2 separate regions of the Homo sapiens genome follow, and region 1 is linked to region 2. The links come from fine-mapping of genetic effects on gene expression. Tissue or cell type: left ventricle. Region 2 holds a variant in brackets; the other region holds the start of a gene. All regions are shown on one strand. Distances are from middle to middle.

The links. PIP is the estimated chance that this variant, and not a neighbour inherited with it, causes the effect.
Region 1: MPPED2 starts here. The variant in region 2 is fine-mapped to the expression of MPPED2 in left ventricle (GTEx, PIP above 0.99).

Annotation. Positions count from the first base shown.
Region 1 is chr11:30,581,643-30,589,751 of GRCh38, reverse strand. MPPED2 (metallophosphoesterase domain containing 2) reads left to right here and starts at 3,399. Exons shown (of 7, transcript NM_001584.3): 1 at 3,399-3,710. MPPED2-AS1 (MPPED2 antisense RNA 1) reads right to left here and starts at 5,602. Exons shown (of 5, transcript NR_183760.1): 1 at 5,519-5,602. RefSeq lists a silencer at 3,445-3,494.
Region 2 is chr11:30,427,415-30,435,523 of GRCh38, reverse strand. The region is part of intron 4 of MPPED2 (metallophosphoesterase domain containing 2); the gene reads left to right. Among named protein-coding and RNA genes, the nearest start is that of ARL14EP, 110 kb to the right of the region's middle. The variant C/A (reference allele first, on the strand shown) is at 3,170.

The DNA.
Region 1 (8,109 bases), 150 kb before region 2:
AACAGTCTTAGGATTATTCCATATTTCTAAAGGCATTAGCAAGACCTTTAAAATGTGCTATTTTAACTCCTTGGGAAGTCCTTAGCTCTTATCCTACAACACTGCCTCATGACATCACTTCCTCTCCCACAGATCTGGTGTGGATTTTTCTTAATTCTGTATTTGCCTCATTCACTGGTGTGTTCTCTTCTTTACTTTCTCATTTATTGACCCACACAGTCATTTAACAACTATTTCCAACATAAAGATAAAGAACTCAAAGAAATATAGGACATTGTTATTCAACTTGGAGGGGTCATAATAAAAACATTTGAATGAACATAAGAACTGTGAGAATTCAGAAAAATAAAATAGTTTGTTGAGTTTTATTTTCTAATTACATCATAGTGGTAGTTCTATTAAGAGGCTCTGATTTCTGATAATATACATCTTAGCCTTTGCTGTAAAATGATAGAAATGCTTACAACTTACAGAAAAAAAGAAATAAAATAGTTGCTGTTTGTTCCTGCAGTTAGACTGGTACATATCATTTCAATGAAATTATTCAATAACATGCAGTAATTTCAATGGATTGCTTTTTAGAAGAAGAACCACAGTATTGAACCAAGTTTTAAGTCATACACATCTCTGAAGTACAGGAAAACCTGTTCTCATAGGGAAGATGAAAGCCAACTCCAAATAAAGTATTGAGCTTTCAAGGGAAGCATCATTTTCTTTCCAAGCTTCCACCCAAAGTTCTCCCACGCTCCTCTTTCTCATTTTCTTTCCTAAATGCATTCTGAAAAGATAATTTAAAAGGTATTGCAGTGGGCTATCAGGAAGCATATTTACCAGTTCCTTCAATGAAATCACTGGGGAAAGGGTCCAGCTTTGAATTCCATTAAAAGAAAAAAATTGTAATATTTCCTTGAAGCCAATCATAAACTTAGTATTTGATTTTCATCCTTCTTTTCTTTTCCATTATACACAATAAAAGTTGAATTTAACAACAACAACGAAAATGGAACTTATAGACTCACTTATCTTTAAAAAAAAGCTGAAGCTTATAGGATTTAAAATTTGATATAATGAGGTAACATTTCAAAGCTTATATGGGAGATGGGATAGACATGGTTCACATCCAATAATTTTAAATTAAGCTTTTAGTGTAGGTAGCTGTATTTGTAGACAATATGATTTAACAAAATGCAATATGTTCAAATCCACGTAAAGAGAATTATTTGAAAAGTGAGTGTCTTTTTGTTCCTGGTTTATTATTTAAATTCATTTTCATATCTCCAGCTTGCTAGTAGCCTAATGAAAATAAAATTTCATAATCCAAATATAACTTGGTCACTATTGGATAATTGATCTATCAGCAGGTTGACTTCTTCCAGCACTACAAATTACAATTTTAAGCCTTTTTACCTCAATTTTCCCCACTCAGTAAAATGGTATACAAATTTCCATCAACTTTGTAATGGATAACCCACTTGATTTTTTATGGCATTAAGTATCCTGTAAAATGTACCACTAAAGTAGAAAGCATTATTATTTACTGTCTGGGTGCACATATTTAGATTCAGAATCATGTTCAAACTAGTTTGTCTGTTTTGTTTGACTGCAATTTTTTTTAAAGAAGGAAACCACAGAAATTATTTGGCTGGTGATGCTTTTTTTTTTTTGAACTGATTAAATCAGCCCAAATCAGTCTAAAAATTCAAACTATTAAGATATGAGGAATGTAGTACTCAGTCACAGAGTAAAGGAAACAAAACCAAGCATTTCTTCAAAAACGTGATTCTAGTCAGTGTTCGCTGATGGGCTAGAAAACAAAAGAAAACAAAATTTAAAGGTGCCTCTATGCCCCCATCTTTGGCATCCTTTAATGTCAATGTCACTTGTTCTGATTTGTGCTGGGCAAGGAAAGACACTGTCCTTTCCACCCCAGCACATTTGACAAGCACTGACACTCTGGGCATGCTGTAAAATAAAATAAATACATTAGTAAGACCATTTCCCTTTTCATTTCAGCCTAGGCATAAGAGATGGGTTACTTAAAATTCAAGTGCCAGGAAAGCCCATTGTAAAAGGGAAATATTTTCAAGTGAATTCCGTTTGATCTTTTTTTATAGGGGCTCCTACAAGCCTCTCTCCCTTCCTCCCCAGACCCTGGAAACCAATTAGTCTCAGCACAGAGGCCACAGACCAGGTTGCAATGGCTCCTTTTTATTTTTAGGGGGTATAATTTCAGCCAGGATGTCTAGTCAGTTGTCACATAGTATACTTAGCACACTTCTCTCTCACACACATATATATACATTGGATTTCCCTTCAGAGAATGCACAGATCTTTCAGTCTGACTCCTAGAAAGGAATTAGATCTGGTTGCTGTCCCAATCTTTCAGCAATGACAATGGCATAACATCACAGGGCCACCTCATCTTTCACAGACAACCCTGCCAACCAAGTTTTCTAAAAGCCTTCTCTCCCTTGTTTTCTGTCTTCCAGCATTTCAGCGGCATTTCCTTTCCTTGTGTTGTTTGTACAAAATTCTGAAAACCTTTTCTTCCATTTTCCAAAGTAGCAGACAAAACTGGACTAAGTTTGATTTTTAAAATGCTTTTGACATGCTTATCTTTTGGGGAAAATTTTATCCAAAAGACGAAAATGGAAACAATTAGAGTCTTTGCCTCTCCTCACCTTCCTGTCCTGAATCTGCCTTAATTCATGGAGGTAAAAAAAATGATCAGCTGGGTTGGCCTTTTCTTTCTCAGCAACATTGCAGAGAGAAAGAGGTGAGTGTGTGAGTGAGTGAGTGAGCGTGTGTGTGTGTGTGTGTGTCTGTCGTGTTGAAAGGCTTGGGGAAAAAGGAGCACAGCTCTCCCCCAGGAAAGCCTCAGATCAGCAGATGGGAGGGAACCTAGGGTCGCCTTCCTAGGTCTGAGCGAAGTGTCCCAGCCGCTCCCCTTACCCCTGCGGTGAGCCCTGCGTCCTGGAACGGTGCCAGGACTCCTGACAGAGCCTGGCAGGTCGGTGGGTGGCGGGGAGCTGGGTGTTCTCTTTGCAGAAGAACACCATTTGGGAGAAAGCTCCCTTCTTTTCCTGGGGCACCGTAGCCCGCCTTCCTTCCCCTATCATTTTTTACGCAGATCGCACTCATGATGATGAACTTGCAGCTCAGCTTCCTGCCGCCTGCTTGACCCGGGAGCACCAGCAGGCTACCGGGCCTCGCCCTCGGCTCCCTCCTCCTCTCGAAACCCTGGGGCTTCGGGGCACCGGTGGGGGTCCGAGTGGGCAGGGACTGCGGGAGGGGCGTGCAGGGGCGCGGGGTCCCGCCGGGGAGCGCGCACGGAGCGGCGCCTCGGCCGCCCTGCTTCCTGGAGCTGTGCTCCTTTGACCCCAGTGGCAGTCCCTGTCACTGCACCGCTCGCTCTCCCTCCGGCTCGCCGCGCCCTCGCTCCCTCTCCTCGCCCCCTCGCTCGCTCTCTCCCCAGATCGAGGCTGCTCGGGTCCTTTCTCCCCCCGCCTCCCTCTAGCGCCGCGCCCCCTGGCCCCCAGCCCCAGCCTGCGGCGGGACCTCCGGGGTCGAAGGTTCTGGCCCGCTCGCGCCCCTCGCCGCCCCCGCGCGCCCCCAGCGCTCCTCCAGCCGGCTCGGGCCGCTCGGCTATGGATCGCCTGCTCGCCGGGCGCTGAAGGCATCCCCGGGATCCGGAGCGCAGCCCGGGAAAGGTAATCCGCCCCGGGAAGGGAGGCGGAGGGCGGGGGAGGGGGAGGAGGCGGCCGGGAGCCCGGTGCCGAGCACTAGAGGAAGGGAAAAAAATGCACACACAAAGCGGAGCCCGGGTGAGAGGTGCCTTGTCAGAGGCGCGTGCGAGGGGCTCGGAGGCTGCGGACCCGGGCTGCCCCGGTGCCCCTGACATCCGCACGAGCGGGCGCCTCCCGGGCAATTCGGCGCTCGGGGAGGGCTGATTTTCAACCCCTGAGCGAAAGCAAATTCTTTTTTAGGAGGTGTCTTCCCTCCGACTCCCCATCCTGCGCCTCTTCTCTTCTCCACCCCCTCCAGCCATCAGTCCCCCGACCTCTGGGGGTCCCCACCTCTTCGCTCCCTCCTCCGCCAGGATTTCTTAGGAGGAGAGGAGGGGGTATCGGCGAGAAGCTGGGGAAGCCGGGCGGCGGGGATGGGGGTGGGGACGAGGGCTCAGCGAGCTGTTTACTAGAAAGTCCCGGGGTGATGTGTTCGAGCCGCCCCGGCCTAGGCCTGGGTGCATTGTGTTGGCCCGATCCCCGGGCTCCCGCGGCGGCCCGAGGCCAGGTGCAGTGACGAGGGGAAGGCACCGCGCAGCTTTGTGCTCCGGCTGCGCCCCGCGGCCGCCCCCGGGGCCGCCCGCGCGCGCCGCTCTCGCTCGGGGCTCTTTCTCACCCCGTCCCCGCGCCCCAACCTCACTCTCCGCCGCTGCCTGGGTCTCCGCGCTCGCAGCCTGCGGAGCGACCCGGCGACCCAAGCTGGGGTCGAGGCTAGGCGACGGGGGACGAGTACCGAGGAAAAGTAACCGTTGCCGCCGGATTTCTTCTCTACAGAGGCAGGAGTTTCTTTGCTATTTACGTATAACAAGGTTATCTTTGTAAAGCCTTTGAATTCCGGGGTTTTGCGGCCTAGGAGGTGAAGGGGGCATTTTTCTAGAGGCTCAGGAGCCGGTTGGAATCCGTCAGCAAGAAAATAAATTAAGGATGCCCCAGTGAAGTTGATTTATAATAGTACATCACCACCCCCCTCTCACACACACACCCCAAATTAAGTGCAAATGCGGGTCATGAAAAATGTATAATTGATTTGAGATGCTGCAAACAAACACAAACAGGTCGGGGGGGTGGGACAAACAAAAGTTTAAGTGAAAAAAGATGTCAGAAGAGGGGGAGATCCCGTGGCCTCCACACCCCCTTCCAACGCTCGCTGGCTCCCTCCCTTCCTTTCTCCGCCGTTCCAGGGAAGGAACCTGGCAGCGCCCAGGCGTAGAGCAGGGAGGAGGCGGCGGCCCCGGGCTCGGGCTCAGCGCTGTGGGTTCGGGGATGCCAACGCGCCCGGGAGGCTGAGGTCGGGGACGTGGGGCTGTGATGCCCGACCGAGGATGGCGTGGTGTCAGAGCCATTGGCCGCCGGTGGTCATCAATCAATCCAGAGCTAGGGAAGAGGGAGAGAAAAAAGATAGGCGTCCAGCGGAGCCCGGGGCCGCCAGCGCTAGCGCCAGCAGTGCCAGCAGGAGCGGCGGCCGAGGAGGTGACGGAGGTGGCAACGGGGGACTGAGCGAGTAAGGCGCTGGTGTTTCAGGAAGGAAGGGGAAGTTGTAGCCGGGAAGAGCCAGCCGTGAGCCTAGAAGGGCAGGGCGAGTGTATGTGGTGTGTGTGTGTGTGTGTGTGTGTGTGTGTGTGTGTAGTTCATAAAGCACCCCCCACCCCGCCTCGCGCAACTGCCCACCACCCTAGATTTAAAACAAACAAACCAATCCAAAGTAGAGAATTCCGCGCCCCCCACCGCCCCACCTTATATAGACTCCACGAGTTGCCAGAGGCTCCGGAGAAAAGTCTTGCCCTCCCTCTCCGAAAGAATGTGTCACCCGGGTGTCCGCAGTGCTGGAGACAAGTTCAGGTGTAAGTGCGGTGGGAGGGAGGGCGCTCGGTGGACAGAAGCACGTGGAACTTTATGTCAGCCTCCCCCAAAAAAACCCTGGCGGAGAAGCCCGCCGGGAAGGCGTGTGGGCATCGCTCCCAGATACAGGGATGAGTAACTGGAAGTGGGCATAAAAGAGTAGGGGCGTGAATTAAGAACGCACTGGATCTGCGCGGCAGAGGGAGGAGAGAGCGAAATTTGGCGGATTTGGAGCAGGCAAGTTCCAAAGTCCCGCCAGGCTCGGTCTGGAGATCTTGGGGCAAGTGATTAAAATGAGCATCCTTGTTGAAACGAGAAAACCGCGGGCTCTTTTCTCATAGGCTGTGCTGGGCAGTGCAGGGGTAGAGAGGTCATGAGTTGTTGCTTTGAAAGTTTTGGTAAATTGGACTTCTGGTGTCTAGGAGGTGGAGACAGTTATTTAATTCCTCAGCTTTTAATCCCTTCATTGCCAGCCGACTTTAAAAGGTTTTCCAACTAGATTCCTGGAAAAGAATATTGCTAGTTGTACAGCTTAAAGGACAGAAGTGATTGCTGTCTAGGAAATGCAAAATGTACTCACATGATTTTCTTTTTAAAGAGAAAAATCAAACTAGCACCAGCATGAATGTTTGGCAGTGTCAGTCCCTTTTAGATTTTTCTTTCGGCTTCTTGATATTTCGTCCTGGGTTCCTTTGTTTTGTGGAAAGTGTGTTGAAGTATAAAATGAAAATTTATGAAAAGAATAGTGCTGTCTTTAAATATTGTGTGTAAAAAGTTAAAGTAAGTGTGAAGAGGGTGAGATGCACGAAAATCTGATCATTTGGAAGGTTTTACTGCCTAAATATACATCTTCTTGATAGTTGTAAGCAGTGTATCCTTCTGTCTTGTTTCAAGCTCTCTCCAAATTTCTCAGGTTATAGGAAGTGGTTTTGTCTATTGTCCCTTGTCTCTGAGAGTTTACCAAAAAAAAAAAAAAAAAAAAAAAAAAAAAAAGAAAAAGTCTTTTCCAGGTGTTTGTGTTTAAAATTCTTAAGATGTGTTCATTTTGAGATACGGGTGGGGATGAACATAGCATTTTAAAAAATAAGCCTTTTCTTGACTTGTCTGTAAAGGTGCTGTGAAAGTTTTGAAGCTCTCTGCCTCAGTCTGACATTTTCTTCAAAGGACTCCAGATTAAAGAAGATAGACGCTGCAGGTGCACTGTTTCGATGAAACATTTGAAAGGGAACATGGCAAAGATGAATTCAAATGAGGTGCCAGCCACCCATTTAGCCTTTCAGAGTTACAGGGGCCTGTGCTTGCTGATGAAAAGATGTTCTATTTGTCTTACTGGGGCAAAGGTGCAAAGAGGCATAGATGTTCAGTGATAGAGAAGGTTGACATTAGGATCAAGCGGACCATGTAGAAGTGCAAATTGATCAGCTGCTAAATTCTGTCTCTTCTTAGCTTCAAATAGTAGAACTTGGGTGGGTATCATGCTAACTGCTACAAGTCATTACCTAGATGTTTAAATATTAGGTATGTATATTTTATTTCTAGGCCACATTTGCTTGGTTTAATTAGTGTGTTTACTCCAGAAACATTTAAAATCTTTCTAGTACTGGGTGCAGAGATTGTTACTCAGAGGTCACAGCGGTCTAGACATGAATTTGATTTCCTTTGCTTCTTAATGTTCAGTATTTCACACAATAGACATTGATGGAAGAATGAACATAAGAATTGTCAAGTAATTTTTACACCACTCTCTAATTTATGCAAACACTAACTTCTCACAGTCTGAAAATGTGAATTTTTCCCCCTCTGTGCTTTGATGGCTAACATTCTTTTTAATGACAGTCATTTCTATAACAGGAAGATGTTTTCATTTGTATTTACTTTTCAGCGCGACGCAATTATGCAGTTTTGCGCTTCAGTAGTGTCTCGGTACTTTGTGTCTCAAAAGAGAATTACAGTACTTAGAACAGGACTGCAATTTGAAGCAGGTGTTGTGTTTTACTGTTATGCAAAATAACAGTAAAATATAATTGTGGGAGAAATTAAGGAAACAGCTGCAAACTTGGTATGAAAACTGCTACATTATGATTTGTAAGCAGTTCTTATAGATATCTTACATCAGAGGAGCAGGGAAAGATTTTAATTTAGTTAATCCTACTGGCCTGGTTGTCTATCATCTGGCGCTTAAAAGACTCATACCTCCCATGAAGTCAGGAAAAAGAAAGAGAACCCAAAGTGACACTTTGTTTAAAATGCCAGAGCACGGGGATTCATCTCTTGGCAGTGCACTTGACATTAGGAAGGCAGGCAAGGTGGGTGTTATTTAGCTTGCTTTGCTAATATGAAGAAGGCAATGATTTGAGTAGAACACTCTGGAATTTCTTAGCCCAGCTAGCATATGGGGGATTACTCAAGCCCCGGGTTGTAAAATAATAAAATAAATGGCCTATGGCAGGCCATCTGCCTTTTGCTCGATATTTAAGGTGTTTCA
Region 2 (8,109 bases):
CCTCAGAAGGAGCATAGATTTTGTGTGTGTATTAGATATGCTTCCAAATGTATAGCCACTGTGATCGAGTGTCACTGCCACTGGTTCAGAGTTTTCTGTTTCAGGGAAAGCCAGTAAAAACCTGACTTTTGGAAATTTCCGTTTATTGAAAAAGGCAGACAGCACCACTTTTGATAGTGTGCTTGTTAAAAGGCTTTAAGAAGAAGATATTTGACTGGCTAGCAGACATTTCACATAAGAGATGGTGTGTCACCAGATAAAGAGTAGAGGGGACTGGGGAGAATGGGATACCATGCAGTTATAACCCACTTTCCAGAGAACAGAATTCTGGTCCCTCGCCTTCTAAAACACTGGCAAAATAAGGAAGTAAGAAATGTGTTCTTTGCAGAACTAATAACTCAGAAAGCATACAAACAAGGGCCTGTTAGGAATGCACTCGCAAACTATGCTAATTCTGGTTTAACTCATGATTCTGACACATTGTCCTGGCCCCAGAGAAACTTGGGTAGCAAATTTGAAGGAGAAGAAGAAATATTGAAACTGGGGATTCTGAAGGCAACCAAATCTGAGTTTGGATCTCAACTTTACCAGTCAGATGCATGACCCTAATCGAGTGATTAAACACTGTGGACCTTTCCTCATTCGATCGTCTGTAAAACTGAAAAAAAAAAATTAGCACTTTATATCTTCCAGAGTTCTTGTGAAGCTAATGCATTGAAAGTACCCAGCAGATAACTGTACAATTGTTTCAGTGATGGTGAATAGCAACAAAACGGAAAGGTATCACTTACTGAGAGCTTCTTATGTGCCAGGTTGATCTAAGCATTTCATAGGTATCAATTTATTTAAATATCACTATTATTATTGGAGTTAGACTGTGTTATCTCCGTGTACTCTGGCAACTAGGAAGAGCTTTTAAATGTTTTTATGCAGAACTGGAAATGCACAAGCTTGTATTAATATGAAAATTGTGATTTAAATTAGAAAATTCTCAATATCTTAAATGAAAATTATTGCTCCAGGATGATAAACCAGGATGATCTGTGGATCCAGTTGTTACTTCCTGGGGGTAAACACACCATGGTTTGAGAATTACAGCCCTGCACTCCTCTTTTTATCTCACCTCTGCTGTTCAGGGGCTATTGTGGATGAGCTGGTGATGGTAAGAGGGGCAAGTGAGGAAGGGATATGCCCCATGACCTTGTCTCTTCCCCCTTCCCCTGCGAATTCTGGATCCCTGCCCACCTCCTCTTCAGCTCATCAGTAGTGACATGCCAATGTGGTAGGCAGCATAATGACCCTGCCCTAAAGATGTCCACATCCTAATCCCAGAAATATGTGAATGTTACCTTACATGGAAGAGAGGATTTTGCAGGTGTGATTAAATTAAGGGTCATGAGATGGGAAGATTATCTTGGATTAGTGGAGAGGGCTCAGTGTAATCACATGGGTCCCCACAACCGGGAGGCTGGAGGGTCAGAGTGAGAGTTGTGGCCACAGAAGCAGAAGTCAGAGTAATTTAGGGCCAGGAGCCAAGGAATGTGGGAAGCCTCTAGAAGCTGTAAAAGGCAAGGAATTAGATTCTCCCTCAGAGCTTCCAAAAGAAACCAGCCCTGCCAATACCTTGGTTTTAGTACAGTGAGACTAATTTTGGACTCCTGACTTTCAGAACTATAAGATAATAAATGTGGGTTGTTTTGTTACAGCAGCCATAGGAAACCAATATACTAGGATAGAGTAAGCCTAGATTTCCTCTGAAATGTGAACGAATTTTCTATCTATCTCTGTTGCAAAAGAGAGAAACTTTTATCCCTTTGAAAATTTCCCACTACAGCTTCAGAATAATCATGGGCTTGAGACATGATAGCGAGGGACCAATGTGAGAAAAGAAAGCAGTGACGGGGTGGACCTGCCCTTTGGATAATGTTTCCTAAAGTGACATTCAAGGAGATCGGCTTCCAGGGTTTATTCTGGCATGGTAGTTAAGCACATCTCCCTGTGACTTTGGAAATCTTTAGCCTCTTTTTGCCTCAGTTTCCTCATCTGTAAAATAAGGTTAATCACAGCATTCACCTCAAAGAGATGCTGTGTGTAATGTTTCATATAGTACATGCTACATGGCAAGCTTTATGTAAATGTTAGCTCTTATGAATAGCCATTATTTTAAAAAAGTGAAACAGAATTTATAGGGGGTCCAATATGTTTAGAACAGGATCCATTACATCAAACAGGCTTCTTTTCTGCAGGGTATCTCAGAATCTTTACTATGGTAATGTTCACTTTATACCTTAAAATTGGAGGGAAAATGCAGGAACATTTCTCAAACTTATTTAACCATAGAACCCTTTCTGATCTGTAACAATCTCAGCAAATCAGATTTATTGGTCATAGTATGAGAAACACTACCCTTAAAAGTTACACCAGGAAACCTTGGTTCACCTCTCTCCAACTCATAGTCCCTGTACCCAGCTTCTAGAGCCATCACCGAACTGGAGATTGGGGACCCCCATCAGAACAGTGCAAGGAGAAACATGTGCCTAGTATCAAAAGCTGAAGATTAGAGGCTTTTTTCCACGTTCACATTGTTCTAACATTGTATGTTATCATATCAGTTAGCTTGGCTCCTGGGGACTTGCCTGGGAACCTAGCATTGTTTCCATACCATGACACTTTAGCTCCAACCAGGCAACCTAGAAATAGTTTAGAATGTAATTCACAAGTTGGGGACCTGTACTTTAGCTTCAAAGTAATGCTGTTGATTTGTGAGCAGATAACCTAGAAATATATACATCAAAATGTTTATTTTACTCTTCAAATAAGCAATTTTCAAAAAAGAATTGTGTATTTTATAGGGTGGAAGTATAGCATCACTAAGTTGTATTCATTCTAGGGCGTATGTTTTTAAAAAAAAACTAGTGTCATTACTTTGCACAGGCATGCCTTGTGTAAATATAGGAAATCTAACTTCTGGGGAATTTCATTTCAAGAAATCAGACCTGGCTCACATAAAGATACCTTTCAAAAATGAAATATAGCAAATTTAGTCAAGCTTAGGCTGTTTTGTTTTGAAAGCTATAAAGAAGTAAACTATAACCTGCTTTATTTTTAGCAGACACCTCTAGAAAACCTTGCACAATGTTCTATTTATAAAACAGAGTCTGTTTTCATG[C/A]AAAGTTGCTTAGTAATAAGAGAAAAGAGCAAGACTGAGTATCGGAAAAATGAAATGTTTCTGTTTTCAAGATTCCTTGAATTCATCAGCATCTCTTTAAGACACAACAAAGCAATTGACCTGGTTTTAGTTTTGACTATGAGAGGTTACCTGGAGATTGATAAATTGGATTTTTTTTTTTTTTTTGAGACAGAATCCTGCTCTATCCCCCATGCTGGAGGGCAGTGGCGCGATCTCGGCTCCTTGAAACCTCTGCCTCCTGGGTTCAAGCAATTCTCATGCTTCAGCCTCCCAAGTAGCCAGGATTACAAGTGCCTGCCACCACACAGTTTTTGTATTTTTAGTAGAAATGGGGTTTTGCCATACTGGCCGGACTGGTCTTAAACTCCTGACCTCAGGTGATCCACCCACCTTGGCCTCCCAAAGTGCTGGAATTACAGGCGTGAGCCACCGTGCCCGGCTGAAAAAAAGTGGAATTTGAAATGAAAATGCAGTCTGTCTTTTATGAGTTATGCCACTGAGTAAGCGACAGAGGACCTAAATAATTATCAGGTCATTTCAATATCACATTATATAGAACATTTATAATTTCATCATCCTTTAAGGCATTAACAAAAAAACAAAACAAAACAGAAAACAACACAGAAGAAAACGTGGTTGAGTAAATTCAATGGCTATAGAAGATTCTAGAAAGTGAAAGTAATGACCCAATACAACTAGAATGTAGTGTAGGAAACAGGCAGTTTCCACCATCTGCTTTATCATTCTGATCAATTTTGTATCATGCTGTTTCCTAATCTTTACAATAACAATAAAACCAACATTTATTTAGGGGTTATTATGTGCCATGCACTCTGCTAGGAGCTTTATGTGGATTATTTCATTTAATGTTCCCAACAATGTGTCATTGCCATAGATAATATAATTATCTCCATCTTACAGATTGGGAAACAGATTCAGAGAGGTGCAGCAGCTTACTCAAGTTCACACCTTTGGAGGTGTTAAAGCTGGTTCAGACACAGGTCTGACTTCAGAGCTGCACTGTTAAGTGCTACCTAGTGTTAAGTGGAGCCAACAGTGAACCAACAGAGAATACACACACGCTGTGTGCCAGAGGCTCAATGTAGAGACAGAGGCTGGTCTCTAGTCTGCCTTTTTATCGTAATAATCCAGGAAAGCTTAGGAATCCCCCCCAACCCGCTGCAAAAAAAGCCCCACATCATCCATGACAAAAAGAATAGCTTTCCTGTTTTTCTTCACATTTTTCGCAGCCATTTCTTAGCTTCGGAAAACTTAGGTGTGTTCATCTCACCTTGCATATATATATTGCATATATTTTATACACAATTGTCTGTTTACCTGGCTGCCTCCTCATCCTCTTTCATCTCTAATTCTGATTTTTCCTGAATACAGAACCTGGTGGGAAGTCATAGTTCTGCACATGTATGATGGGTGAATGGAAGAGCATGCCCAGATGCAGATTGAACATAGACATGGTGTGCAGTGTATGCTGTGGGCTGGTTTTTCTCAAGCAACATGATGTCTTAAGGATTTTCTGTGTTGCCACCTAGTCTTCAGAATTAACATTTGCATAATATGTATTTTACTGGATATTCCAATCATGGCAAATTTTTTAACCATTCTTTTTTCTGCAGAATTTAGAAATAATTGTTCCCAATATTTTGTTGTTACGAATTACACTGTGTGAACAACTCTGTGCATAGCATTTTTACTTACTTTTGGATTATTTCATTAGGATGTAATTTCTAGACAGGGATTACTGAATCATAGTATAAGCATTATATATGGCCTGTGACAGCATTTTCCGATATGAATATAACGTGAACTACATAGGTAATTTTACATTTTCTGGTAGCCACATTAAAAAGTAAAAACATAAAATAAAATTTGGTTTAATGATATATTCTATTTGACCCAGTTATCAGAAAGCAATCATTTAAACATGTATTCAATATAAAAGCTATTAAAGTATTTTCACATTCTTTTTTTTAATATGAAGCATCCAAAATATGATGTGTGTTTCGCACTCACAGCACATCTCCGTTTTCAGACTAGCTACATCTCGGGTGCTCAGTAAATACGGCTATCATATTGGGCAGCACAGGCCTGTGATATGTCTAATCCAGTATTTTTAAATGACCTTTGCTTTTTAAAAGCCCAATCTTAATTTGCCTTGCCCTTTCCTAACCTCCTCCAGTTACACGTAGTATCTGGCTCATTCCCTTGGGCACTTATTTTAAGCTGTCTTGACTTTTTCATTGTTATGAATATTTTCTTGACCTCTATTTTGTGTCAGGCACTGTGCTAGATCTTGGGGGACACCAAGATAAATAGGACATGGTTTGCAACCCACTGGGAGAAGATAGACATACCCATAACACAACGTGGATTCAAATGCTTGTCGGAATGAGATAGGAAATAATTTTGAGAAAAAAAGACACACACAAGCAAGTTATAATGCAGAGCATGACAAATTCCAGAAATGAGGATTAAACAAAGGGCTGAGGGGATTGGGGAAAGCTTCTTGGGGAAAATCTAATTATGAATTGAGCCTTGAGGGCTCAGTGAAATTTTAATGGGCAGAGATATGGGAGAACAGTTTTGCCTGTGATGATCTTGTTATCCCAACCAGATGGCAGGTTGGTGAAGAGTGGGGCATTGCCTCACATTGCATTTAGATCTCCCCAGAGCGCCCTGCCAGAGTTTTGCAGTAGAAGGTGCTCAATAATGTTTGTTGAGCCCAATTAATAATATATGGTTGGCTGGCACACAGTGAGGGAGACACCGGGTCTGTGTGCTTGCTTTAACCTCTGAATTGAAGGGCAGTCTAAGCTTTTTACTCATTCCTCTGATTGTGTGTACTGCCAGTTTGCAGTCACAGTTTTCTCACTTTACTAAATCGGTCTGGACTGAAACTAGTCGTTTAGAGCCAAAATGGTAGATAAATGGGGGCTAACACTTTAACTTACATCTGACCTCCTTGTCACTTATTCCAATTCCCCCGAGCTTTCAAACAGCACAAACAGGCCACAGGGACAAGAAATGACATGGGAATTAGAAGACACTTATCAGAAGGTGCTTTCCTTTTATTTGCAACTCACACATATAGGCCTTTGTTTGACAATCTTGCTAGAGCCTTAGGAATTTTTGTCTTCATTCCACAGGTAAGGAGACAGGAATTCAGAGAGGGTACTTATTCAAGGTTATATAGCAAGTAAATTGGAAAAGTCATGACTAGAACTTCTCTTTTCTATCTCCCAAGTGAACGTCTTCTTTTTATTCGCAGTTGGCCCACCCATATCAAATGTCATCTTCCATTGCTTTGTGACAGATCTACTCAATTCTTTGGTATCCACATCCTACATCTGAAAAGTAGAGAAAAGGTAAACTTGGAGGTCATATGAAGTATGGAGAAGATAAGTTAGGGAACAAAAACCAAAGGGTTGGTGATATTAATATCTATAATGATATTAACATTCATAATGATGATGATAAGAGTCACCATTTAATTTTTAATCTATATAGGCAGGCTGTCTGCTAAATGTATTACATATATTATCACATTTAATCTGCACAACATACGTGTATGGTTGCTATTTTTATCTCCGTTTTATAGATGAGAAAACTGAGATCAAACAGATGAACTTGTCCAAGGTCATATTGCTAAGTAGAAAGCAGCTGGAATTTGAATCCAGACCTAACTTCTAACCCTCTTAACTTAATCATTGCACTACAAAGTTCTGGTTCATGCCAACTTAGCTTAGATGACCTTAGACAAGTCGCTACAACTTCTATTTATTTTTTATTTTTAGAGACAGCCAAGGCTGGAGTGCAGTGGTGTATCAGAGCTCACTGCATCTTCAAACTCCTGGGCTCAAGGGATCCTCCCACCTCAGCCTCTCAAGTAGCTGGGACTACAATCATGAGCCACCATGCCTGGCCCCCAAAATCCTATTTATGTAGACTGTTTTTCCCAAAATTAATACTTTGCTCACCTCTTGGTAAACTGATAAATGTGAGAATTATTTGTAAGCAGCAAAGTGGTATACAGATATATAATGTTGTGTGCATTTAAACTGAAATTTCTCAGTCAGATGAGAGATATATACCAGCAACAGAGTGATGTCTGGCACTAAGCAGGTGCTCAATAATGTGGCTTATATTCATTCCATGAATGAATTTAAGACTTCCTTTGCTGAAGATGCTTTTTTATTGCCACATATGGAAATGGGTGGTAAAGAGAAAGAAGGCAGGCCGTATGTCAGCTTCCTGAGCAAAAGTCCCCACACCCACTAATTTCCCTACCCCCTTAATATTCTAGGGCATTAATGGGATGTAGCTAGGGAAGAAACCACCTTAGAAAAAGTAGAGTCGAAGTAGATGTTGAATTCTCCAAATTCTTCCATCCATGCTCCACTTGCATTTAGCCATCTGGAGAGTTTTACATTGAATAATTTTTCTTCCAAATGATATATAGTCATTATAGAAAAAGTTAAATAAAAAAAGAAATAGAAAGGGAAAAAAATTCACATCACCCATAATCTTTCCCCTCTCCCTTCACCCCCAGAGATAACCTAACCATTAGGCATGTCCGTCTGTTTCTTTTTCTTCAAAGCATTTTTTACATGTTTGAATTCATACTGATACACGAAAGGTAATACTTTACTTTTCCACTGACCATCAAGGAATTTTCTCATGAACTTACAAACTCTTCATGAACATTCATTCTTAATTCAGCTGACAAATACACATCTTCTCTGTGCCAGGTGATGGGGACACAGTAGTGAGCCAGACTCATTGAGTTTCCAATTGACCTTATGTTTAATGGCTGTATGGTATTTTATTGTCCACTTATCAATTGTCCCCTTTGGGTCTATTTTGCAGGTAGCAGGCTTTCTTGCTAGTAAAATGCTCCCCAA